Homo sapiens: one gene and its partners. The protein of the gene in region 1 purifies or fractionates together with the protein of each later gene. This does not show direct contact. Each region holds a gene or a part of one and is shown in the gene's direction. Other genes may lie near its edges. The genes, in order: HPSE2, EDEM2, PEX1, ANKRD17, NAF1, FRAS1 and ZNF496.

The links.
Region 2: the proteins of HPSE2 (region 1) and EDEM2 purify together in Homo sapiens (affinity purification with mass spectrometry; one large-scale study listed by BioGRID and IntAct). This does not show direct contact.
Region 3: the proteins of HPSE2 (region 1) and PEX1 purify together in Homo sapiens (affinity purification with mass spectrometry; one large-scale study listed by BioGRID and IntAct). This does not show direct contact.
Region 4: the proteins of HPSE2 (region 1) and ANKRD17 purify together in Homo sapiens (affinity purification with mass spectrometry; one large-scale study listed by BioGRID and IntAct). This does not show direct contact.
Region 5: the proteins of HPSE2 (region 1) and NAF1 purify together in Homo sapiens (affinity purification with mass spectrometry; one large-scale study listed by BioGRID and IntAct). This does not show direct contact.
Region 6: the proteins of HPSE2 (region 1) and FRAS1 purify together in Homo sapiens (affinity purification with mass spectrometry; one large-scale study listed by BioGRID and IntAct). This does not show direct contact.
Region 7: the proteins of HPSE2 (region 1) and ZNF496 purify together in Homo sapiens (affinity purification with mass spectrometry; one large-scale study listed by BioGRID and IntAct). This does not show direct contact.

The regions. Positions count from the first base shown.
Region 1 is NC_000010.11:98,718,353-98,721,852, reverse strand, and holds part of HPSE2 (inactive heparanase-2 isoform 1 precursor), read left to right. Parts: intron 1-24; coding exon 25-196; intron 197-3,500. UniProt on the Homo sapiens protein: Binds heparin and heparan sulfate with high affinity, but lacks heparanase activity. Inhibits HPSE, possibly by competing for its substrates (in vitro).
Region 2 is NC_000020.11:35,133,837-35,137,336, reverse strand, and holds part of EDEM2 (ER degradation-enhancing alpha-mannosidase-like protein 2 isoform 1 precursor), read left to right. Parts: intron 1-2,387; coding exon 2,388-2,599; intron 2,600-3,500. Other genes in the region: MMP24-AS1-EDEM2 (ER degradation-enhancing alpha-mannosidase-like protein 2), read left to right, coding at 2,388-2,599. UniProt on the Homo sapiens protein: Involved in the endoplasmic reticulum-associated degradation (ERAD) pathway that targets misfolded glycoproteins for degradation in an N-glycan-dependent manner.
Region 3 is NC_000007.14:92,511,521-92,515,020, reverse strand, and holds part of PEX1 (peroxisomal ATPase PEX1), read left to right. Parts: intron 1-1,053; coding exon 1,054-1,173; intron 1,174-3,317; coding exon 3,318-3,441; intron 3,442-3,500. UniProt on the Homo sapiens protein: Component of the PEX1-PEX6 AAA ATPase complex, a protein dislocase complex that mediates the ATP-dependent extraction of the PEX5 receptor from peroxisomal membranes, an essential step for PEX5 recycling.
Region 4 is NC_000004.12:73,073,799-73,077,298, reverse strand, and holds part of ANKRD17 (ankyrin repeat domain-containing protein 17), read left to right. Parts: intron 1-194; coding exon 195-359; intron 360-1,008; coding exon 1,009-1,068; 3' UTR 1,069-3,500.
Region 5 is NC_000004.12:163,142,891-163,146,390, reverse strand, and holds part of NAF1 (H/ACA ribonucleoprotein complex non-core subunit NAF1), read left to right. Parts: intron 1-526; coding exon 527-609; intron 610-3,500. UniProt on the Homo sapiens protein: RNA-binding protein required for the maturation of box H/ACA snoRNPs complex and ribosome biogenesis.
Region 6 is NC_000004.12:78,476,823-78,480,322, forward strand, and holds part of FRAS1 (extracellular matrix organizing protein FRAS1 isoform 1 precursor), read left to right. Parts: intron 1-992; coding exon 993-1,239; intron 1,240-2,551; coding exon 2,552-2,896; intron 2,897-3,500. UniProt on the Homo sapiens protein: Involved in extracellular matrix organization. Required for the regulation of epidermal-basement membrane adhesion responsible for proper organogenesis during embryonic development. Involved in brain organization and function.
Region 7 is NC_000001.11:247,300,868-247,304,367, reverse strand, and holds part of ZNF496 (zinc finger protein 496), read left to right. Parts: intron 1-3,091; coding exon 3,092-3,500. UniProt on the Homo sapiens protein: DNA-binding transcription factor that can both act as an activator and a repressor.

The DNA.
Region 1 (3,500 bases):
CTTACATGTCTGCTTTTAATCTAGAGCCAAATAACTATCGGACCATGCATGGCCGGGCAGTAAATGGCAGCCAGTTGGGAAAGGATTACATCCAGCTGAAGAGCCTGTTGCAGCCCATCCGGATTTATTCCAGAGCCAGCTTATATGGCCCTAATATTGGGCGGCCGAGGAAGAATGTCATCGCCCTCCTAGATGGGTAGGTCAGATTATTTAGCTTTTCTTATGACATTGTTCATTTAATGAATTAATGTATTTGCATTTCTCTTGGTTATTTATTTATTTATTTATTTATTTTGGTCTTAAGAAAAAAGGAGGGACTCTTTCCATAGTGGCTTCACCCACTCTAAGACAGAGATTCTCCATCTTTCTCATCTTTCTAGGCCTTCCATAGTCAACAGGGGGTGGTGGGATGGGGAAGGTATATCACAATCTCTAGGATGGGTTGGAAAGGAAACATTGTTTGAAAAACCACAATTAATATTATGCATCTTATAGCATCATTTTATATTTTTTAAAACAAAAAAAAATTACTCTATACCAGTGTCCTCTTGTAGAAAGTGAAGCTTTACAAAATCTTGGCCAGCAAAGCTGGGTTAAAAAGTTGCAAAACACTACAAATACTGGTAGATTAAAGGTCTTAATAGGCCTATTAGCAGATATTCTAGAGAATTGCTACCACTTTTCCTATTTAGTTTTGACTGAATCTGACAATCATTTTTAAAAATCACGCAAGGCAAGGAAAGATACTGATCAGGAATTTTTCTTTTATGTGTCAGAAAAAAAAAATAGAGATTTATCTCTCTTAATGTGTATGTACTAAATATACAGTGAAATATAACTAGAAACACATAAACATCCCCAGCAACTTGAACTAACAATAACAAAAATGTCAGCACTCTAAATTACCAGCTCTGTATTCCTTTCTAATCCTCCTGGTTATACAGATATAATTTTACATAGTTGTGATCATTGTATATGCATCATTTTGAGTGCTGCATTTTTTACTCATTGCTTCACATGACCCTTTCCTTATTTCTACATAGTTCTCATATTGTCATTCTTAATAGCAATAAAATATACCATTGCATTAGTGCACCAAAGTCTGCCTAAGCATTCCCTCACTGTTGGGCATTGGACTGTTTCCAAATTTTGCTTGTAATACATAGCACAGCTATAAACATTTTTATACAAATCGGTTATTTATTTCTTTTGAATTACATCCTTGGGCTATATTCCAAAAAGTAGGGTTTCTTGGTCAAAGTATATGATCATTTTTATGGCTTTTATATTTGTTGCCAAATTTTTTTCAGAACAATTTCATCAGGTTTCAGGGCAGCAATGTATTAGTATATCTTTTTCCCTAATATCTATAGCAATAAATGTTGTCAATTTTATTAATTTACCCTATTTTAATTAATGCAAGATCATGTTGCATGGTTGTTTTAACTTGAATTCTGTTAACTATGAAAATAACTCAGCATTTTCAAATCCTTATGTTTCCTCTTATCCCCCAAATTTGGTTAGTAACACAACCAAATTCTTATGTTTCCTCTTATCCCCCAAATTTGGTTAGTAATGCAATAACCATTTTGCCTGAGACCCAGACATGGAAGCCGTTTTAGATCAGTCTTTTCCTTTGTTCACACACTCAATTCGTTATTAAGTACTGTAATTTCTGATTTCTTATTATCCCTCATATCCCATTTTCTTTTCATTTTTATTTTAAACCTTATTTTATTTTCAACCTTACTGTTTTTAATTCTAAGTGATTTCTTGGTATCTAGCTAGCCTCAAACTCTAATAATCTTTCCATATAGATTCCTGAGTAGTTATTTTTTATTGTTGTTTTTTAAACACAGAGTCTCACTCTGTCAGCCAGGCTGGAGTGCAGTGGCATGATCTCGGCTCACTGCAACCTCCATCTCCTGGGTTCAAGCAATTCTCCTGCCTCAACCTCCCGAGTAGCTGGGATTACAGGTGTGTGCCACCATGCCTGGCTAATTTTTGTATTTTCAGTAGAGATGGGGTTTCGCCATGTTGGTCAGGCTGGTGTTGAGCTCCTGACCTCAGGTAATCCACCCGTCTCGGCCTCCCAAAGTGCTAGGATTACAGAATAGTTTTTTTTCTTCTTCTTTTTTTTTTTTTTTTTTTAATGCAACATCTGGTCAAGTCACTTCTGCTTGAAATCCAAACCCTTTCAGATGCACTCATGACGTTTAGGGTCTGCGCCTGCCTAAATTTGCAGCTAATAAGCAGTGATACCCCCTTGCCCTCTAATTACATCTAACTACATCAAAGTACAGTAAATTTTTAATGTAAATTTTGGAAGATACCCTACTCTTTTATACCTTTACATCTTTTTATTTTGTTTCATTTTGTTAAGAATACCAGCCTCTCCTCTTGTTTTTCTCCTTTCTCTAGATCTTCTCTGACATGTTGAGGCAGGGTTTCTTAGGGCCTCCTCTGTCCTTGCATGGCACTGTATTTTTCTGCTATAGCACTTATCAAATTGATGATAACATTTGTTTATATATCTGCCAGCCATGATAAACCACAGAGTAGGGTCAGGACCCCATTTGTTTTATTCATTCTATATCTTCAGAATCTAGGAACATAGTAAGTGTGTTATAAATGCTTGTTGAATGAGTAGTATCTGTCTTATTCAACAACTGATTTTAAGGTCATCTAACGTAAAAACAGTATGCATAATTGTAATTATGAAGCATTGAAAAGCATTGTATAAATAATGATTTGAATGGCTTATGTTGATTTTATAAATCATGACTAACTTCAGTTTTATGAAACTATACCAATGTCTAAGTTTTTAAAAAATTTTATTGATACATAAAAATCGTACGTATTTGTTGTACATATTTATGACAATTTTTAAATTATTTCTTTGTGTTGGGAACATTCCAAATCTCTTCTCACTATTTGGAATATACAATAAGCCACTGTTAACTATTGTCACACTACTGTGCTATTGAACACTAGAACTTATTCCTTCTATCTAACTGTGTTTTTGTACCCATTAACCAACCTCTCTTTATCCTCCCTCTCTCCTTCCCTTCCTAGCCTCTGGTTACCACCAATTCTCTACCTCCGTGAGGTCCACTTTTTCATTTGCTCCTACATGTGCATGAGAACATACAATATTTGTCTTTTTGTGCCTGGCTTGTTTCACTTAATATAATGTCTTCCAGTTCCATCCGTGTTGCTGAAAATGACAGAATTTCACTCTTTTTATGGCTGAATAGTATTCCATGTGTATATATACTACATTTTCTTTATCCATTCATCCTTTAATGGACACAGGTTGATTCCATATCTTGACTATTGTGAATATTGCTGAAATAAACATTGAGGTGTGCATAATATTTTTGATATACTGACTTCCTCTATTTTGGATACATACCCATAGGTGGGATTGCTGGGTAAGCTTTTTTATTGAGGTAGTTACAGAACTAAACAGGACTGTCTTTCCAGTTAGGATATGAACT
Region 2 (3,500 bases), on another chromosome or scaffold:
AGCAATTCTTTTGCTTCAGCCTCTTGAGTAGCTGGGATTACAGGCGCCTGCCACCATGCCCAGCTAATTTTTGTATTTTTTAGTAGAGATGAAGTTTCGCCACGTTGATCAGGCTGGTCTCAAACTCTTGACCTCAAGTGATCTGGCTGCCTCGGCCTCCCAAAGTGCTGGGATTACAGGCATGAGCCACTGTGTCTGGCCTCTCTCCACAGTTTGGTTTCCCCATCTATCAAATGAGAATCATAATTTCTACTTCCCTACCACATCGGGTTTTGGAGAGGCTAAAATGAGGTCAGGAAGGAGAAACTGCTTAGAGAACGTCCAACACTTTTAAAACGAGAGGGATTTGTTTTGTGGCTAAGCTGTGTCCAGGGCTGCAGGTCAAGCCTCCATGTTTTTGTCTAGTGGGGCAGTAACACCAGGCTCAGTAGCATCAACTGTACACTGTGTTCCCTTCAGGGTGTGGTGGAGGCTCTGAGGACTGTTCACACCCAGACACGTCACACTGTGCTTTCCATCACCTCTTGGCCATCTCACTTATTTATCCCTTTTCTTTCTTAATTTTTTTTTTTTTTTTTTTTTCAGACAGGGTCTTGCTCTGTCGCCCAGGCTGGAGTGCAGTGGCGTGATCATGGCTCACTGCAGCCTCTCGAACTTCTGGGCTCAGTTGATTCTCCCACCTCAGCCTCCTGAGTAGCTGGGATTACAGGCAGATGCCACCATGCATGGCTAAATTTTTTTTTGTAGAGATGGGGTTTCACCATGTTGCCCAGGCTGGTCTTGAACTCCCGGGATCAAGTGATCCATCTGCCTTGGACTCCCAAAGTGTTGGGATTACAGGCGTGAGCCACCACACCCGGCCTCTTTATCCTTCTCACATAGCACTTGCCTCTCCTTTGGGGGAGAGCTGAGGATAGCGGGTGAGCTAGGTTCAGGTCTCACTCATGGCTCATGGCTCATGGCTTGAGCGTCTCCTTGCAGACATTGTGTCCTGTGTGATTCATCCCTGGAGGAAACTCTGGAAACTCTGCCTAGCTGCTCCTCCTTTATAATTTAATTATTTTTGGTCATTGGTCATTTTATAAAAAAAGGTCAAGAAACAGGATTTTGTCACTCCTCTTCTTTTTATTACAGCCTGACTTTTTCTGAAATATTGCTTAGAGCCCTTCCTGGTTGTGACTTGCTCTCCCGCTGGTGCCTGCCAGATTGCAAGTTTCTTGTCTGTGGCAGACACAGTTGCTAGACCCTGTGGTTCTTGGAAGTGTCGACACCTTTGTTCACAGTTTGGTGACGCATAGGCTGCTCTGGAGTTGTTTGACCTTTAGGCCCAGAGAGGAAATCTCTGCCTCTGGCTGGTTGTCCAGTTCTCGTCTTGAACCAGAAGGCACTTGGGTGCCACTTGGGTGGGGCGGGCAGAGAACTGGACTGGGGCTGGGGTGGGCACAGGGGAGGCGTTCCCATCCCAGCTCTGTTTGACTCTCTCTGTGTGACCTGTGGCTGAATTACTTCTTTACAGGCATGGTTTTCCCTACCTATAAATCGAGGGTCATACTATATCCGTGGTTTAGTGGTTTATATCCTATTTTGCTTCCCTTTAAAAATAATTTAGCCCCTATACTCTTTATTTAAAGCAGAGATCTTTATTTAAAGTCTATGAATGGCTTTGTTTATTATTATTATTATTTTGAGACAGGGTCTCGCTCTGTCACCCAGGCTGGAGTGCAGTGGTGCAATCTCAGCTCACTGCAGCCCACGCCTCTTGGGTTCAAACGATTCTCGTGCCTCAGTCTCCCAGATAGCCAGAATTACAGGCGTGCACCACCACGCTTGCCTAATTTTTGTATTTTTAGTAGAAATAGGGTTTCACCATGTTGGCCAGGCTGGTCTCGAACTCCTGGCCTCAAGTGATCTGCCTGCCTTGGCCACCCAGAGTGCTGGGATTATAGGCGTGAGCCAAAAGTCTATGAATGGCTTTGAACGGGGCTTACTCTTGTCATTGTGCCACAAGCCCCACCACTTTCTGTGGCTTAAACCCTGCCTGCATCACAATAAGTTACCTGCCTGGGCTTTGAAGGCGTAGTGTAAAATAAATAAAAATAGGTAAAGCTCTCTAGCTAAAGCGAGTGTGTGTGGAGCACAGCCTGCTCCCTGCCCCCTCATGATGAGCAGGAACCCAAGGTTATGCAGAGCAGTGTTTGACAGCATCTGGGCTGGGTGGCTGCTCAGGGCCCTCCAGTTATGACATTTATCTTTCTCTGGCTCAGACTCTAGCAGGATACCCAGGAGAAAGAGGGAAGTGCTGGCTAAGGTCCCAGGCTTTGGGCGTGTATCAGAACTATCCCTATCCCCCTGCTCCTGTCCGGGATCATAATTTGTCGATTGTTCAGCCTTTCAGACCCCCACTGGCATGCCATATGGAACAGTGAACTTACTTCATGGCGTGAACCCAGGAGAGACCCCTGTCACCTGTACGGCAGGGATTGGGACCTTCATTGTTGAATTTGCCACCCTGAGCAGCCTCACTGGTGACCCGGTGTTCGAAGATGTGGCCAGAGTGGCTTTGATGCGCCTCTGGGAGAGCCGGTCAGATATCGGGCTGGTAGGTTCGCTGCTGCCCTTCCTGTTTGAGTCCCTGCTTACGAGGCCCAGGGCTCTGAGCAATAAGTTGCAGTCAAGCCAAGGAAAACTTAGGGTGACCTTGGGAGTGGTCCAGGATTTGGGCTCAGGACACCAAAAATAGACCAAGCCTCCAATTCAAGTTTGGCTTGGAGTGGGGAGGAGAGTGGGAAAGCACGTTTCTGGCAGGCAGCAGGGGCTGCATTCAGCTTTGACCAGTTGAGATTCTCTGATTTCTAGGAAGAGGGTCGTATGTTTCATGCCCCTGACTCACTTGACGGCTTCAGATCATCAGCTCGTCCGGCCTTCATTTTTAGCGTCTATCTGTATTTGCTGTGTTTCTTAGGACACCGGTTCTGAGAGATACTGAGTGGCAGTTGCATGAAAAAATGAGTCTTGGCCAATTAAGTTAGGGGAATATTAGATATAATATCCCCCCCTTTTTTGGAGAGTCAGAATGCACATGAGCAGAATAAAAATCCTCTAGTAAAGAAATCTATTCAACTTTGTTTAATTTAACATTTCCCAAACTTATTTAACACCAGAGCTTCCCTTTATCTTCCAGTACTATTAACCCATGGAAATTGAACACACTTTGGACCAGATGATCTCTAAGGTCAGTTTCAGCTTCTAAATGGGATAATCAATAAGATTAACAGTAATTGAGCCAAAGCCATCCAGGACATAACACTGGATTTAGTCAGAACTGGATTCAAGCCCTGGCCTTGCTACATCGAAACTGTGTGACCCTGAGCAAGTCACTCAACCTCTCTGGTCCTCAGTTACTTCAGCAGTAACGTTAATATATTAATACCAACTTTGCTGAGTCACTCTGACTTAGGAAGACTGCATTTAGGTCTAGGCACATTTTATGCAGTCTGGTG
Region 3 (3,500 bases), on another chromosome or scaffold:
GGCCGGAGTGTGGTGGCGATCTCCACTCAATGCAAGCTCTGCCTCCCAGGTTCAAGCGATTCTCTTGCCTCAGCCTCCCGAGTAGCTAGGATACAGGCTCCCACCACCACGCCTGGCTAATTTTTGTAGTTTTAGTAGAGACGAGGTTTCACCATATTGGCCACGCTGGTCTCAAACTCCTGACCTTGTGATCCGCCCACCTCGGCCTCCCAAAGTGCTGGGATTACAGGCGTGAGCCACTGCGCCCGGCTGAGGTAAAATTTAAAGTGTACAATTCAGTCATTTTTAGTATATTTATACTAGTTGTACAGCCATCACCACAATCTAAGTTTAGAACATTTTCATTAGGGGGTGGGAGAAATTTTACTCTGCTTTTTAGATTAAGTTTCTGTCTGGATCTAATCATTTAATCAGACAATCAGGCAGATTGTCTGTGATTAGTTTTGGCCATTCCAGCTTCTTCATTGGTTGTTAACTTTCACAAATAAAGGCTGCTCAAAGATTAGAAATAACATTTAATTTGAATGTAAATGTGCCATAGTTTAAAAGATGGGTTTGGTGAATACAGTCAAATACATACATTTAAAGCTCTAATTCTGAAGATTATGTAAAGAAAAGGAAAGAAATGTAGGGAGAGGATTGAAATGTTCATGGTATAACAATATCTGAACATCCATCTGGTCACACCGTTGGTATTTGAATGTTTTGTCCTCCTCAAATTCATATGTCGAAATCCCAACTCCCAAGGTGATCGTATTAGGAGGTGTGGTCTTTGGGAAGTGATTAGGTCATGAAGGTGAAGCCTTCATGAATGGGATTCGTGCTCTTATAAAAGAGAACTGTGAGAAATAAGTTTCTGTCGTTTGTTAGCCACCCAGTTTAGGATATTTTGATATAGCAGCCTGCATGGACTGAGACAACTATGAGTTATTATGATAGCTTCTGTTATTTCACCTAAATTCATAGAAGCTAATATATCAATATTTATGCTATGAAATATTTCTTAACCAAGCTTTGAATATATTTATATTTTTGTTTATTTTTAAATTTCAGATTCCAGATGACCTGAGGAAGAGACTAAATATAGAAATGCATGCCGTAGTCAGGATAACTCCAGTGGAAGTTACCCCTAAAATTCCAAGATCTCTAAAGTTACAACCTAGAGAGAATTTAGTGAGTTCAAATATATATGTTACATCAAAATTCTTTTACACGTTTTGTAAGATTTCTAGTTGCTTTAGCTAAGTAATAAGAATGTTGTATTCCTTTTTGATACAAATCTTTTTTTATTGTGTTAAACTATATATAACATAAAATATGCCATGTTCGCCATTTTTAAGTGTATAATTCAAAGGCATTAATTACATTCATAATATTGTACAACCATCACCACTATCTATATCCAGAACTTTTCCATCACCCCAAAGAGAAACTTGGTACCCATTAAACAATAATTCCCCGTCCACTCCTTTCCCCAGTCCCTGGTAATCTCTAATGTATATTGTGTCTCTATGAATTTACTTATTCTAGATATTTCATATATAAGTAGAAGTATGCATTTGTCTTATGTATCTGACTTATTTCATTTAACATAATGTTTTCAAGGCTCATCTGTGTTGTATGTATCAGAATGTTATTCCTTTTCATGGCTGAATACTATTCCATTGACTGCATATACCACATTTGTTTATCCATTCATCTGTTGATGGACACTTGGGTTGTTTCCACATTTTTGGCTGCTGTGAATAATGCTACAGTGAACATTGGTGTACAAGTATCTGTTTGAGTTCCTCTTTTCAGCTCCTTTGGGATATACCTAGGAATTATGTTTAACTTTTTGAGAAGCTGAGAAATCTTTAATAAATGATAACACAAATACTTATATTTGCCAATGCAAATATGAATATTTTTGGCTTTTAAGAGATTGATCATTTTGCCACGTGGTTGTAATTAAAAAAAATTGTCCCATGTTGTTTCAGTATTAATATTGTAGCCTAAAAGAGTGCTAGACTGTTTTACTTTTTACTCAGTTAATTCTTTGGATACTGGTAGAGTCAGGAAATGAGATATTGAACTTAAAGATCTTTGCAGGTGGGGTCCAGTGGCTCACACCTGTAATCCTAGCACTTTGGGAAGCTGAGGTGGGAGGATTGCTTGAGGCCAAGAGTTTGAGAATAGCCTGGGCAACATAGCAAGACCCCATCTCTACAAAAAAATTAAAAAAAAAATTAAGCCAGGCGTGGTAGCTCACGCCTGTTATCCCAACACTTCGGGAGGCTGAGATGGGTGGATCACTTGAGGTCAGGAGTTGGAGACCAGCCTGGCCAACATGGTGAAACCCCATCTCTACTAAAAATACCAAAATTATCGGGGCGTGGTGCTAATCCTGTAATCTCAGCTACTCAGGAGGCTGAGGCAGGAGAACCACTTGAACTGAGGAGGTGGAAGTTGCAGTGAGCCTAGATCTCACCACTGCACTCCAGCCTGGGTAACAGAGCGAGACTCTATTTCAAAAAAAGTAAAAATAAAAATTAGACACATGTGGTGGCACATGCCTGTAGTCCTAGCTACTCAGGAGGCTGACTGAAGTGGGAGGATCTCTTGAGCCCAGGAGTTCCACACTGCAGTGAGCTATGATTGTGCCACTGCACTCCAGCCTAGGCAATATCTCAAAAAAAATTTTTTTAAATAGATTATTAGGCCAGACGTGGTGGCTCATGCCAGTAATCCCAGCACTTTGGAAGGCCAAGGCAGGCGGATCACCTGAGGCCAGGAGTTTGAGACCAGCCTGGCCAACATGGTGAAACCCCATGTCTACCAAAAATACAAAAATTAGCTGCAATGTCTATAATCCCAGCTACTTGGGAGCCTGAGGCAAGCGAATCGCTTGAACCCGGGAGGCAGAGGTTGCAGTGAGTGGAGACTGCGCCACTGCACTCCAGCCTGGGCGATACAGCGAGATTCTGTCTCAAAGAAAAAGGAATTTGTTTTCCTGTCTTTATCGTAGAGGGAGGAAAGGGAGAATGGGGTTGGAATGGTTATTGAGTGAGCCACATTATGGTAGATGTATCACTGGGCATAGAGAAAAGGAGCATTTAAAACTTTTCCGCCTAACAGATGTTTCTTCAGGCTACACTGCACTCATTGTGCTAACTGTAATGTCAAATCCCAGACCTGTGCCTATAGAACATGAACATCCTTCATTGGATTTGTTTGGTCAGGCTTACACTTTATTAGGAAGATCAGATGTTAAAATAAGGGTGTTAAAGTTAAGTTCAGATATGAGGATAATTCATTACTATTCCTTTTTCTGGCAGCCTAAAGACATAAGTGAAGAAGACATAAAAACTGTATTTTATTCATGGCTACAGCAGTCTACTACCACCATGCTTCCTTTGGTAATATCAGAGGAAGAATTTATTAAGCTGGAAACTAAAGATGGTGAGTACATTTGTTATTTTGACTTTTTTTTCTATTTAAATAGTTGTACATTTTTAATT
Region 4 (3,500 bases), on another chromosome or scaffold:
TGAATATAGTAGGCATATGTATAATCTAATGTTAAAATAAGTTATATAATGGGTAATAATTTTTAGATTTCTTAGATAAGTTACACATTCCCAGGATGAGGTGAACTTTCAAATATCAATTTTAAGGCTATTGATTATATTGGGAAAAATGAACAATGACTTGGATGTTAATGTGTGTGTTTTCCTTTTTTAAGGGTATGCCTTTTTCTGTGTATGGGAATGCAATGATTCCTCCAGTAGCACCTATCCCTGATGGTGCTGGAGGACCCATATTTAATGGCCCTCATGCTGCAGACCCTTCTTGGAACTCACTGATAAAGATGGTTTCCAGCTCCACGGAAAATAATGGCCCTCAAACGGTGAGGCTGATCATTCAGTGAATAAACAGTTGTTTTGTGTTTAAGAAATGCAAAGACAAATAGGATTCAGGTAACTCATGATAGCAAGAGAGTTTGGTGAATATGGGCAGTTGAGGAAATCTAATATAGCTGCAATATAGCAGAGGGCTGTGGGCAGTGGTACCAAAGGCAGGTTTGGGGCTAAAATTATGAAAGGTATTGTATATTCTACTGGGTAGCAGATAATAAATGAAAGATTTTAAGTTGCAAAGTGACTGTCATATGATTTTATACATTAAAGTTTACTAGTGGTGTGAAAAGACCATCTAAAGGTTATTTATTAAAGGTACTATAAATAACTCTGAGAATTCACATAAATGGTTGTATATTTTAGTTTAGTGTATGTTTAATATCTTTGATTTATTTTTCTTCCACAACCGTGAATCTATAAATGCTCAGGTAATGATTTTTTTTTTAAAGGTTGTAAATCAGATTCTGTTTGAGGGATAAGAGGTAGGAAAATAATAGAAAAAAGGTTTTTATCATTTTTTTCCATTAGTTCCTAGTATATTGCAAATTGAAGAGTACCTCCTTAGTTTTTTAAAAGTTTTATTTTAATAAAATATATGCTAGATATATATTTTGTAAAATGCATGCTCTATATTCATAGGTGTGGACTGGACCCTGGGCACCTCACATGAACAGTGTGCATATGAACCAGCTTGGCTGATGAGGATCAGCTTGTTAGCCTGCAGATTCCTTTTCATTTGGAGGAAATCACAAGTGGCCGAAAAAAAAAATTATGCTCCCAAATCATTCTACTGATGTGCTTGACTGAAGTGTGTAGGCTTTTTGCAGAAGATCTTACTAACTGACCTATTTTCTGTGAACATTTGTGACTGCCCATTCCCCATCATCATCCGTTTTACCTTAGTTAGCATTTTTCTTATCATTTTTCTTTTTTTCTTTCCCTCTTCCCCTTTGGACATAACTTTCTGTTGAAGCTGTTCTTTGGCTGGTTGGTTTTAGTACTGTAAACTGCTTCTGAGCAAACACGGAAATTTAGCAAAATTATGTAAACTTGATCCTGAAGTTTTAGAATGGCAAATAAATGTACAATTGTTTACATAACAGAAAAGGCTAAGCAGAAAGTAAATTTCAATATGTCAGTATAGAGGCTCTACTTTATGTAGACTTAAATTAATGTGAGATATGTACCTTCATATTCAGAAATCTGGATGTTTCCTTCATACATTAAACTATTAATAAGCATAACTTTTCTACTGGTGTAATTTAAGTATAAAGTAAAATAATGGGCATTATCATTGGATGTTTCCCCACATTGGCTTTTAAAATACCCATCTTGCTTTCTTTTTGGTTTATTTGTAGCAAGGCACATATAGAAGAAGAAATTTCTGGCTTTTCCATGTTGTTTTATTACCTTTTCTCACTTTTAAAACTAATACAGACTTATCTCCTCACTCCTTTTTCTCTCCTTACCTTTACCACTAATACCAGTAAAATTATCTTTCTGATAGTGAAAAGGTTCTGTCAAGATTTTCACTGTAATGGCTGCTACAGAGATGGACCATCTTCATCATCACCAGTGGTTTCTTCTAATTATAAAATGTTTAAACTTTCTGAGAATTTAAAAAGCCACCACTGTTCCCAGTCAGCATATACAAGCTCTTAATATTCTGTTTATTAAATAATTCAATGTACTATTTTATATTGGATGATATTGATTCTTAACATTGGCTTTTCAGTCATCAACAGTCAACATAAAAATTTCAATTTTCAGTAATTTAGTGGAAAATATCTTATTTCTTTTTTCAATTTTAAAGGCTTCCTGCTTTTTTACCCTTGTATATTATCAGTGAAAAGGATCAACAGTTAATTTGAGCCAAGTAATAAAAGAAATTCTGCATTTGTCACGAAGACAATTTATGGTAGACAGATAAATACACAGATTACAGTGTAAAGTCTCCATTTAACCTGTTTATAAAAGATACAAGGCCACACTAAACTACTCAGTGGGATTTATATATTCCATCCACTTGAAACAATAAACAGTAATGTATCCAAGAAGATTATGTGTCCTACCCTGTCTCATGGAAAAATTAATTATATGGTTGAAATGTAAAAGAAAGTAAGCATAAAAATCGAGTAATGTATATATCAATTTGTCTTCTTTTTTTTTAATTAGACATAAAATTTCACACTGGTAAAACATAAAAACTAACTAAAATTCATATAAATCACCTAGAGTTGATGATATTAACATGGTTCCTTGGTTGTCAAGTAAATCAAATGATTTCTTCCATCTGAGTAAAGAGTAAAGCCTGAGTAAAGAGTAAAAAGATGACTTCTCAAACATATCCAGAAATTTGTAAACAGTACACTCATATCTTTTAGTTTAAGAAGTGGTCTTAAAATATATAAATTTGTTTTTCCACCTATGTTTAATATGCCCAAATTTAAAGGGAGAGCTAAAAGACAGCCTACAAATAAATATAGCTATGAAATAAAATTATAGCACTTTACTAAAAAAGGGATGTAATAATGTTATTTAACGAAGTATTTTATATATGACTTGCCACTATTCTATACATAAAATTTTTTTTCTTAATTCTTTCCTGTGTTAACTAGGGTTATTTTCTATTTAAGGTAATCCTGCTGGAGAACAGATGCTATCCAATATTTATTACAACACATGAGTTGTGTTGTTTCACAATACTGAATTTCTTAGGTGAGGTATTTTATTTAAAAAGGAGGGGGAAAACTCCTATATTTTCTTGACTTCAAACCTGTGGGGCCAGGGGATATAGATTGAAATGCTCCGTATTTAGTCTTGGGGATCAGGCTTGTTTAGTACAATACCATGGTTTTAGAAGTCTGTACTAGGAACATTTTTAAAATACATTTTTTATATTTCAGATGTAATGCAGTGCACTTTTATTTGAACAATAAAAAAACCCATAACTTTTTGAGACCATGAAGGTCTTTTATTTTTTAATTTTGAAAATATGTGGTATGTGTATATGCAGACTACATCATTGTTTTAAGAAATGATTTAACTCTTGGACATTACACTTGGGTTAGTTCACACCTTAAATCCCCAAGTAGTTAATATCTCAATTATTGTATAATCAGTTTATACCA
Region 5 (3,500 bases), on another chromosome or scaffold:
ATTTTCATGTAATGATAAAAATTACTGTGAGCTCTAGCACTTTTACTTCTTCTGTTCATAGGAAGATGCTTTTGTGAAGCCTTTTATTTAACTTTTTCATATACCAGTAACTAAACAGTGCTTTGTAGAAAAGAATTTTTAAGAGTGAGAAAGAAGACTAATTTCTTCTAAAACAGTTTTACAACTAAACGTGATTACACTATTTTTGGTAAAAATTACTTGAGAATATGTACATAGCTTGAATTTGTTGAATCTTTAATGGATGATTCAGATTTTCTGTGGGATTTGCATTTTAATTTTTTTCCCTTAGAATTATAGCTTTTTGTATTAAAAATAGGTATAAAAACATTTCCCAGTGCTATTTGGTAATAAGTAGACTTTGTTTACTGAAGAGAAAATGGTTAATGAGGTAATAATCCCACCTTCAATTTTTTTTTAAATTATGTTGGAATTAAAGCTTAGATTTTCATTAAAATTCTACATTCTCTTATAAGTAAATCTTGAAGTAATCTATTTTATTTTTCAGTAATAATTGAATCTATGACTAACCTACCTCCAGTTAATGAGGAGACTGTAATTTTTAAAAGTGATCGACAAGCAGCAGGAAAGGTTTGTAAAACATTTCAAATCTTACAAATTATTCTATTTATTTATTGTTTTTTTCTGACTTTCCCCATCAGTTCTCAGAAGAGTTTATTTATTTTAATTGATGGACAATCTAGAGCTCTCTAATTTCAGTACGTTCTTGATTTCCTTTAGTACTTCATATCTGTCTGTAAATTGGTTTAATACTGATTATTACTCTTTGCCACATGAGTTATTAAATACACATATATAGAATTCTTTCCTAGTGTTTGTCAGATAACTTGCTAGGCAGTGAGTCTACGTAATGCATAACACATCGTTTCCTACCGTCCAGATACTCAGCTGAGTGAAGAAGACTTCCCATAGTATAGTAGCTCTTAAGCATTTTTGTTTTGTGAGCTCCTTTGAATAGTGGCTCTCAGACTTTTCAGACTTTGACTTCCTCAGGTGGAAGCTCGGTGTGGAATCTTTTCCAAGTGGAAAAATATTTCACTGACAGCAATGAATTGTCACTGTAGGCACATCCTGGGGAATTACAAATATGTGCATTCAAGTAATTACTATAAGATTTGGTCCCTTTTAACATCTTTCTAATGGAACAACCCTGCATGTCCACCTTAATGTAGAAAACTGTGCACTTTACTCAGCAACTAGGCAATTCTGACTGGTTGGCAGAAGACATAAACATTCTAAAATCAAGAATGTAAATACTAAGTAAGTATTTATTTCCTGGCAATAGGGACAGTTTTATTCACCTTGATATTCCCCATTGTATCTAGTACAGTTCTTTGTAAATTATTTGTGCCAAGTAAATGTGTATTGAGTTGAATACAAACAAATAAGAAAGGAGCTATTTGTGATTTTCATGACAGTTGTCTTTTTTTCTTAGTACCTAACTTAGACAATTTTAATCTGAAAATACTCAACACTTTGCTAAATTAAAACCTCTAAACAGACATTTTTTTTGTATTTCCCACTACATTTGAATTTCTAGACCTGTAAATGTGACTAATATTAATATTCAGCTGTCATTTAGATTTGAAAGGAGTCAGATAAAATATAACATTTACACCTCTAACTTTAGTTATATGGCATAAGCCTGTTGGCAAAAATTAAATCTATTTCTAAATTTTACATAGAATGCTTTATAAATGCTTTTGAAAGACTTTGTGACAAGTTTTTAAAAAATACTTGATTATAAATCTAAGTGCCTTGAAATGATTCTCCAAAATAGTAGTGGGAGTAGAGATTAGAAAGTATTTGTTAAACAAACCAATAACCAGAATATGAAACTGAGTACCTTTTAGATTATTAGCATGTCTTATCTAAATACTAAATTAGTTTTACCTTCAGTAGCAAGCCATCGAACATCTTTTCCCTCTTTTCTTCAGTAACACGATAGTAATCAGCTACAGTGATATTTATGTTATCTTTTTAAGTTCACTGAAACCCTGCAAGGAAGTAAAATTACCTCTATTTTAAAACTTGAGAAACCTTGCTAAAAAGTCACAAAGCTGAAATGGATGAGTTTACAGCCCAGGTTCATTTCCCTTCCACCTCCCTTTGCCTTCCCCACTGATTAAGGGAGGACAGTCTCAGATTTTTATTCCTACCTTTGCCCTTTAATCCTAAGAATTGCTAGTTCCCTTGATGAACTAGTGAAATCTGTTTCCTTCTCATATATCAGTGGGTAGGAAATTTTTACTGATTCCTTTTTAAACGATTATATTACTGTCTTGTTTGGTAGGATGTGATGATTTTCTAGAGGACTCTGTATTATATTGATGGAGTGTTGTTCCCCACCCCCTCAGTTCTCATGACATATTTCAAGGTAACTTATGATACAGTAATACACACAGTGATTGAAATGATCAGTTTGCCTAACTAATAGATTAGAATACTCTATTCGTCTGTATTTTCTTCATTTTTGTTGATGGGAATTGAAAAAAGCACAAAGTGATTGATAAAAGACAATGTTGAATAGTTGTAAAGGTTCATTTCCTCATTTCCTTTCTCCTTTGGCAGTTTAGCCCAAAGCTGGCTCACCTAGAGAGACATTGTTTGAAGGCTGTTCCCAGGTGGCAGCATGCAGACCTTGGCCCTTCACAGGCACAGCCTGCCAGCATTGTTCCTAGGCCTGGAGATCCTTGATATATTTATTGTTACTTAGAGAAACTAGGATTTACCTAGTCCCCTCCTAGATAATAGAAAAACTGGGAGTTACCTAGCCCCCTCTAGATAACTTAGTAAGTTTGTGACATGGTATGTGTGTGGAGAGGGGGAGGAGAGTACAGCTCATTCTCCCTTTTGCTGTATTGTCTGTGCACCTCCAGCCTGCTGGCTCAAACAGGCCTTCTACGCCGCTGAAACTTTTGCCATGGTGCACACAGAACATTTAAGCCCAGCCTACGCTGGGATGGAATTTGGGGAACTGCATGCACTCTATATCTTCTCTGCTTGTCAGTTATTTTTCCCAGCAGATCCTACATTATAGCTGTACCACGTTGTTGTTACAGTGTGTGTTAACCTCTGTGTGTGATAGGAATCCTTGGAGATCTTGTAGCAAAAATATAATGACTTTGAGTAAAAAATGGTGAGTATTATCACCTAGAGCCAAGTGAAAGGATACCTAGAAAACCACTTCTCAATGACAGGGCAAGTATAAAGCATCAGTTGGATTAAATTTTTATATGAACACCTACAGAATATATACTAGTTTTAAAGATATAAAGAAAGCTGCTTGCCCACCTCATAGTAAAGGTCTCAGGTGCTACTTTTCCAAATTCAGTTTCTTATACTCTCCTTACAATCTATTACTTCCTTTGCTTTTATCTTGAATCAGGTAGTATGGAAGTTCCAGAATCCCCTAAGTTGGGTGGAATGACCAAGAAGGGATATGGGTGCCTCCTATGGAG
Region 6 (3,500 bases), on another chromosome or scaffold:
AATTTTTGCAGATTTGTGTGTCCCCAGACATTTATGTCTGTTTTTTGTACATATTTCAGTTATCTCCGTTTACACAAAGTATAGTCCAGGCTCATTTCCTGCAGTTTCAGTTTTGGGCAAGTCCATAGTCGTGGTTTCACTTGAAGATTTTTAATTTCTTTCTTTTTAAAAAAAAAAAAAAACAAAGTAAAACCAGAATAAGTCCCTATAAGTTCACAATTGTGTACATATAAAATAATTTCTCTGTTTTGTACTGGGCTAAATTGATTCACATTTTAATGGCAAAGGGTGTAGTCAAAATATCAAGTTAAAATTAGTCTACCTTGTTTATAATGTAATTTTCTATGAATTTAAATTCCATTATTCAGTACACTGGAATTCTATGTCAATTTTAATTGTGTAAGTAATATGGTGATACTAATGATAATATCTTATGTTTGTTTGGTACTTTAAAATACACTTAACACCTTCATATACAAGACCTCCTTTAGTCCTCCCAAGAAGCGTATGAGGTAGGAATATTATGACTTTTCTTTAGTTGATGAGGAATCTGATGTTTGTAAAGCTTCATAACCTAATACAGCTTGGAAGTAACAGAACCAGATCTGAGAACAGAACTTCATACTCCAAGGCCAGAGTTCTTCCAGAAAGGGAACTGAGTCATCAAATGATGACTGTTGCTGCCCCAAGTGAGATAATAAGACAGGCTATAAAGAGTTACTACATGTTTTTCTCCAGTCACCAATGGTAGGAGAGATTTTGCTCCTTCATGTCCTTATACAATAAAGCAGCCCTCCTGTACAGGTTAAGAATGGGAAGAGGTGGCTGGGTGTTCCAGGTGATGCAGCAGGGAACCAGGGCTGGGAGAACCAGCTATTTCAGTCAGTGCTCTGCCCACTGGACTTGGATGCTCTTTTCCTATGATGCCCTGGGGAAGCAGAGCAGGGGAAGCTGAGGCACAGCTTAACTTCTTGTTGGTTCCTTTGTGACAGGTCCAGTTTGATGAGCGAGAGGACACCAAGTCCTGCACCATTGTCATCAACGATGATGACGTGTTTGAAAATGTTGAGAGTTTCACTGTGGAGCTCAGCATGCCAGCTTATGCCCTGTTAGGGGAATTCACCCAGGCGAAGGTCATTATCAACGATACCGAGGATGAACCCACATTAGAGTTTGACAAGAAGATCTACTGGGTTAACGAGAGCGCTGGTTTTCTGTTTGCACCTATTGAAAGAAAAGGTCTGTTGGTTCCACAGGTGACAAAGAGCTATAATAATTGCTAACATTTATTGAGTTCCTATTATGTGCTAAGCACTCATCTCATGCATTATCTTAACTCACATGTGTACTTTCCACTTATTAACTCATTTGGTTCCCACAACAACCCTGATGATGATTCTATCCATAGTGACTACCATCAGAAAGCCTCTTTTCTTAGTTCAAGTTGTTAGAGCTCCCATTTACTCTTAAATTGGACTAGAAGACTGGTTATATTTAGCCTTCTAAATTATTCATGAATCAGTATTCTTAATCAATCACCCAATCCATAAAATATTTAGTAACCTTGGTCAAGGAGGGAAGTTACAGTTCATAAGGACTGGCTTTCCATCTTATTCTTGGAAGACAGAAATATGCTGAAAATTTCCCTATGTGACAGTCATATGTAGAGCTCAGATGAGAAATAAACTATGTGTAAGAAATAAAGGGCAATTCTTTTTTTGTTTTATTTTTGACTGATACATAGTAATTGTGCATGTTGATAAAAGGGCAATTCTTGAGGAGTTGGAAATAAAAATAAACATCATATGGAATTTTGATTGTGCAAGATTGAGACTTTAAAACACATGGAAATTGAACCCCCATTCAAAGGCACAACAAGACTGTAAATGATGATTTTGGGTTTCTTTCTTGAATCTGCTGACTGGGTATTAGTGTAACAAATACTGTAGATAGCAAAAACCCTTGGTAATGCCACTTGGAAAACAAGCAAGCCTCATTGATTGCTCTGGGCCACCAAGCCAGGCCCAGAACAGGCTGTCACCAAGGGAAGTGGCAGCCCTAATAAGTAAAGTCATTTGTATACAGTGGCAGATTTTATTTTGTTTTGTCTTTCTCTTTTTAAATAAGCCTGTTTCTTTCTGGGAATTAAAGTATAGAAGTTTATTCAGAAAGGCAGTGAACTGTGCTTATAGCACTACCTTCAGGACACAATTACTTTCCTACTTAAAGTACCAAATATGTGTCATATCTTTCCACCTGCTGTGGTCTTAGATGGTGGGCAATGAGTCTTGCAAATTAACAGAGCACAAAATTCACAGAATAGGAAATCCATTTTGAGTTGTTTGATGAAGTATCTGGGGTATATTAAATCCTCAAGTGGTTTATACCACAGGCTCAAAGAAACTGCAATTCAGGAAGGTTTTATGTCAGAGTTTGAACAGAAATAGTGATGGACTGTTTGGGAGGGACCAAGCTCATTAACTTACCAGAGGTTTTAAAATCTGAGAAGCACTCATTCAAATGCTTTGGTTTTTTGCCATTTGTATTTCAGGAGATGCAAGCAGCATTGTATCTGCAATTTGCTACACAGTCCCTAAGTCAGCTATGGGAAGTAGCCTCTATGCTCTAGAATCAGGCTCTGATTTTAAATCTAGAGGGATGTCTGCCGCGAGTCGTGTGATATTCGGGCCTGGTGTGACCATGTCCACCTGTGATGTCATGCTTATTGATGACAGCGAGTATGAAGAGGAAGAAGAGTTTGAGATTGCCTTGGCAGATGCCTCTGACAATGCCCGCATTGGAAGGGTGGCGACAGCCAAGGTGCTCATTAGTGGTCCCAACGATGCCTCGACTGTGTCCCTGGGCAACACGGCTTTCACTGTCAGTGAGGACGCAGGTAATGGAGAGTGTCTCTGAGTTTCCTTCACCTGTCTCCTGATTCCTTTCTTGAGCAGTTTTCTCCTTAGGTTTCAGAATATCCGGGAGACATTGAGAATGCCATTCCTCAGGGATACCACTGTTGGTCTAAGGCACTATATAATGCTTGGCCAAGACCAAGCATGGAATTTATTATAGAGAGTTCCATCCACTTTTCTTACTCTGATTTGTTTTAGTAAATTTTTGTGGGTACATAGTAAGTGTATATATTTATGGATTATATGATATATTTTGATACAGGCATGTAATATATAATAATCACATCAGGATAAATGGGGTGTTCATCACCTCACCTCAAGCATTTATCCTTTGTGTTATGTACAATCCAATTATACTCTTTTAGTTATTTTAAAATGTGCAATTAAATTATTTTGACTATAGTCACCCTGTTGTGCTAGGGAATACTAGGTCTTCTTTCTAAGTATTTTGTGTACCCATTAACCATGCCCACTTCCCCCCTCCACCACCATTTCCCACCCCCACTACTCTTCCCATCCTCTGGTAACCATCCTTCTACAACATGGATGGAAGTGGAGGTCCTTATGCTAAGTGAAATAAGCCAG
Region 7 (3,500 bases), on another chromosome or scaffold:
AGCAGGTCATTTCCATGGGATTTTAAGGCTCAGCAATAACCTCTGGCTCAGTTCTCTGTTCTCCAGGCCCAGCAGGCTACTGGCCCTGCTCTTTGGAACTCAGAAGGAAATGACTTCACCTCCTGAGCCTGTACTCTCTGGTCCCATGATGACAGTGGCAGTCCTGTAACCTCTGAGCCACCTTTGGAGTCATTCTTCCCTTTTCTTGAAGGATAGTACATATTCATAGCCAGATAGATCTATCGGCCAGTTTGTAGAATCCCAGAAGTCCTAGCCTTCTTTTATTTCATCCCATCTCTTTTCCTTTCAGTTCCAGCTGGCAGTGTTTCTGCTGGTATATAATACTCAGAAACCCTGCCCTCCATGCAGTCCACAGGGTTGCAGGCCGTCAGACGAGGGTGTCCTCCATAGACCTTCCTGGATAACCTCATCTCTGTTCCTGGCTTCTGTTGAGATGGTTGATTGGATCCGTGAATCATACCCAGAATCTCTTTAACAAATGATGAGCCAGCCACACTCTTGGTGTCTCTCCAGTGCACGCTTTCTTATTTTTTGCCGTATGGATAGACAGAATTTTCCAAATCTTGAAGTCATGGTTCCTTTTTGCTACAACAATTCCTTCTTCAGTTTATCTCTCTCATCTCACGTTTCACTATAAGCGGCAAAAAACTAGTCTTTGCCTTTGACACTTTGCTTCGATACCTCCTCAGCTCAGTATCCGAGTTCCTTACTTACAATTTCTGTTTCCACAGAACAGTTGAATATGGTTTGGCCAAATTCTTTGCCACTTTATAATTGGAGGATCTCCTTTTCTCCAATTTCCTATAACGTCCGTATTTCTACCAGCCACTTCCTCAAGGCTTTTTAAACATGCACTTCAGAACTCTCCTGGCCTCTCCCCATGACCTAGTTCTAAAATCACTTCGACAGTTTTTGGTCTTTGTTTTAGCTGCACCCTACTTCCTGGTGCCAAAGTCTATGTTAGTCTACTGTGGCTACCATAACAAGGTACCACAGGCTGGGTGACTTAAACAACAGAAACTTACTTTCTTACAATTCCAGAAGCAACAAGTCCAGAATCAAGGCTTCAGCAGAGCTGGTGTCTTCCAAGGCCTTTCTCGTCTTGGAGACGGCTCCCATCTTGCTGTGTCCTCACAGGGTCCTTCCCTCTGTTGAAGTCTGCCTCCAGTCTCCTCCTCTTAGAAGACCAGTGATTTTGGATTGGCCCCACCATCTGACTTCATTTTGACTTAATTACTTCTTGAAAGACCCTATCTCCAAGTAATCACATTCTGAGGCTCTATGGGTTAGGGCTTCATCATGTAAATTTTCAGGGGGACACAATTTCGCCCATAACATGCACTGTCTGCTCTCATAATTCCATCTCCTCGCCCAGTTAACAAGTAAGAGATCTTAGCGGTCCACCTTGTCACTTTGTTTTCTTCTTCCACCCAAGTCCATTAACAGAAGTCAACTGCTGATCAAGTACCTTGTCATCGGCAGCCTGGTAAAAGTTACACCTTGCTCTTGTCTCCACCCCATGAGGTCCACAAAGTACATCATACACATGACCTCACCTGCCCCACCAGCAGCTTAGAGCAACGGGCTGCCACTGTCATTCTCACCTTGTAGACGAGATGACCCAAGCTCAGAGAAGCTGTCTGGCTGGAACGAGGTTCCTGCAGCTCGAAAACCAAGAGTCGAGATAAGCGTCAAACATAGCCTCTCGGCGGGCGCAGTGGCTCACACCTGTAATCCCAGCACTTTGGGAGGCTGAGGCAGGTGGATCACCTGAGATGGGTGGCTCGCTTGAGCCCAGGAGTTTGAGACCAGCCTGGGCAACATAATGTGACCCCATCTGTACAAAAAATTAAAAACACATGCACACACACAAACACAATCTCTGTCTTCATCTGATGATTTCCCTCCTATACTACGTGGGTTCTTGGCAGACTCAGTACCCACTCCCAGACTCATGTTCCCCCGACCCCCTTGTGACTGAGGGACAAATGCCCCCTCCGCTTCCACCATTGCCCTTTATCTCTCTGCTCTCCATAGCCTCTGTGTCTTCCTGCCCTGCTTCTGTTTGTCCAACTTCTCCTGTCCTGAGCTGCTCTGACTAGCCAGGGCTCTCCTCCCCACAGTCATGAAGCCCAGACTAACCATGTTCCTACTCTTATCTGGGAGGGCCTGGTTCACTCCCCCCAAGTTCTAGATTTGAGTTCTACATTTCACAGCAGTGAGGAAACAGGCCACCTGTATGGTGGGCTCTGCTCCATAAGCCGGGACCTCAGGCCGGGCTCTGCACTGTCCACCCAGCCCCGCCCCGTGGTTCCACCTTCCCAACATCACAGACTCAGGATGCAGGAAGTCCAGAGCAGCTTTATCCATCACCACCTGTGGCCTCAGAAATGCGGTGCTACTGGGAGCCGGGGAGCTGTGGGGGACCCAGGACTCTGGGCAGTCTGGGACTGTTGAGCAGCCTAGCAAGGCTGAGTAGCATTTCAGCCCTCCTTCCTGGCACAGATCACCTTAGTTTATGTGTAAACATGGCAACCAATAGGTCATCGGGTTGCGTCCAGGAGCAAATAGGAATGTGCATGTCAAGTCTAGCACAGTCCCTGGAGCATGCAAGTGCCCAGCACATGATATGTGTAGGTTGTAGAGTCTTCCTCTCTCAAGTCCTTTCACTATCCTGATAGAGCTTTCCCCCATGCCTTGTTAAGTGCATGATCTGTAAATGGTCAAGGCTTTACCCAGATAAATACAGACTCCTAGAGCTTGGGGGGATGGGGTGGTCTCCGTGGGTAGAGAACAAAAGGGTTGGGGGTGGAGATAAGGGAAAATGGCTGGGAAGAGGGAGAGCAAGGTGCCCAGCATGCTCTGGACACAGCGGGGCCCATGCTGAAGATTTCTTCCTCACAGGCTACACCAGTGGCCCCTGCAGGGCTGGCCAGGCCGCCCCGGTCACCGAGGACCATTGTAAAAACACGGGTTTGTAAACTCCAAGCTGAGTGTTCCTCCGCCGCGGTCATAGGGGCTGGGATGTGGCCTGTGCAGCGTCGCTGACCTGCATGTTGCCTTCCTGTAGCTGGCGGCAACCCGCGATCTCTAGAGAACAGCCTGGATGAAGAAGTGACCATCGAGATCGTTCTCTCCAGCTCTGGGGACGAGGACTCCCAGCATGGCCCGTACTGCACAGAAGAGCTGGGGAGCCCCACAGAGAAGCAGCGCAGCCTCCCCGCCTCCCACCGGAGCAGCACCGAGGCCGGAGGCGAGGTGCAGACCTCCAAGAAGTCCTACGTGTGTCCGAACTGTGGGAAAATCTTCCGCTGGAGGGTCAACTTCATCCGGCATCTGCGGAGCCGCAGGGAGCAGGAGAAGCCGCACGAGTGCTCGGTGTGCGGGGAGCTGTTCAGCGACAGCGAGGACCTGGATGGGCACCTAGAGAGCCACGAGGCCCAGAAGCCTTACCGGTGTGGTGCCTGCGGGAAGAGCTT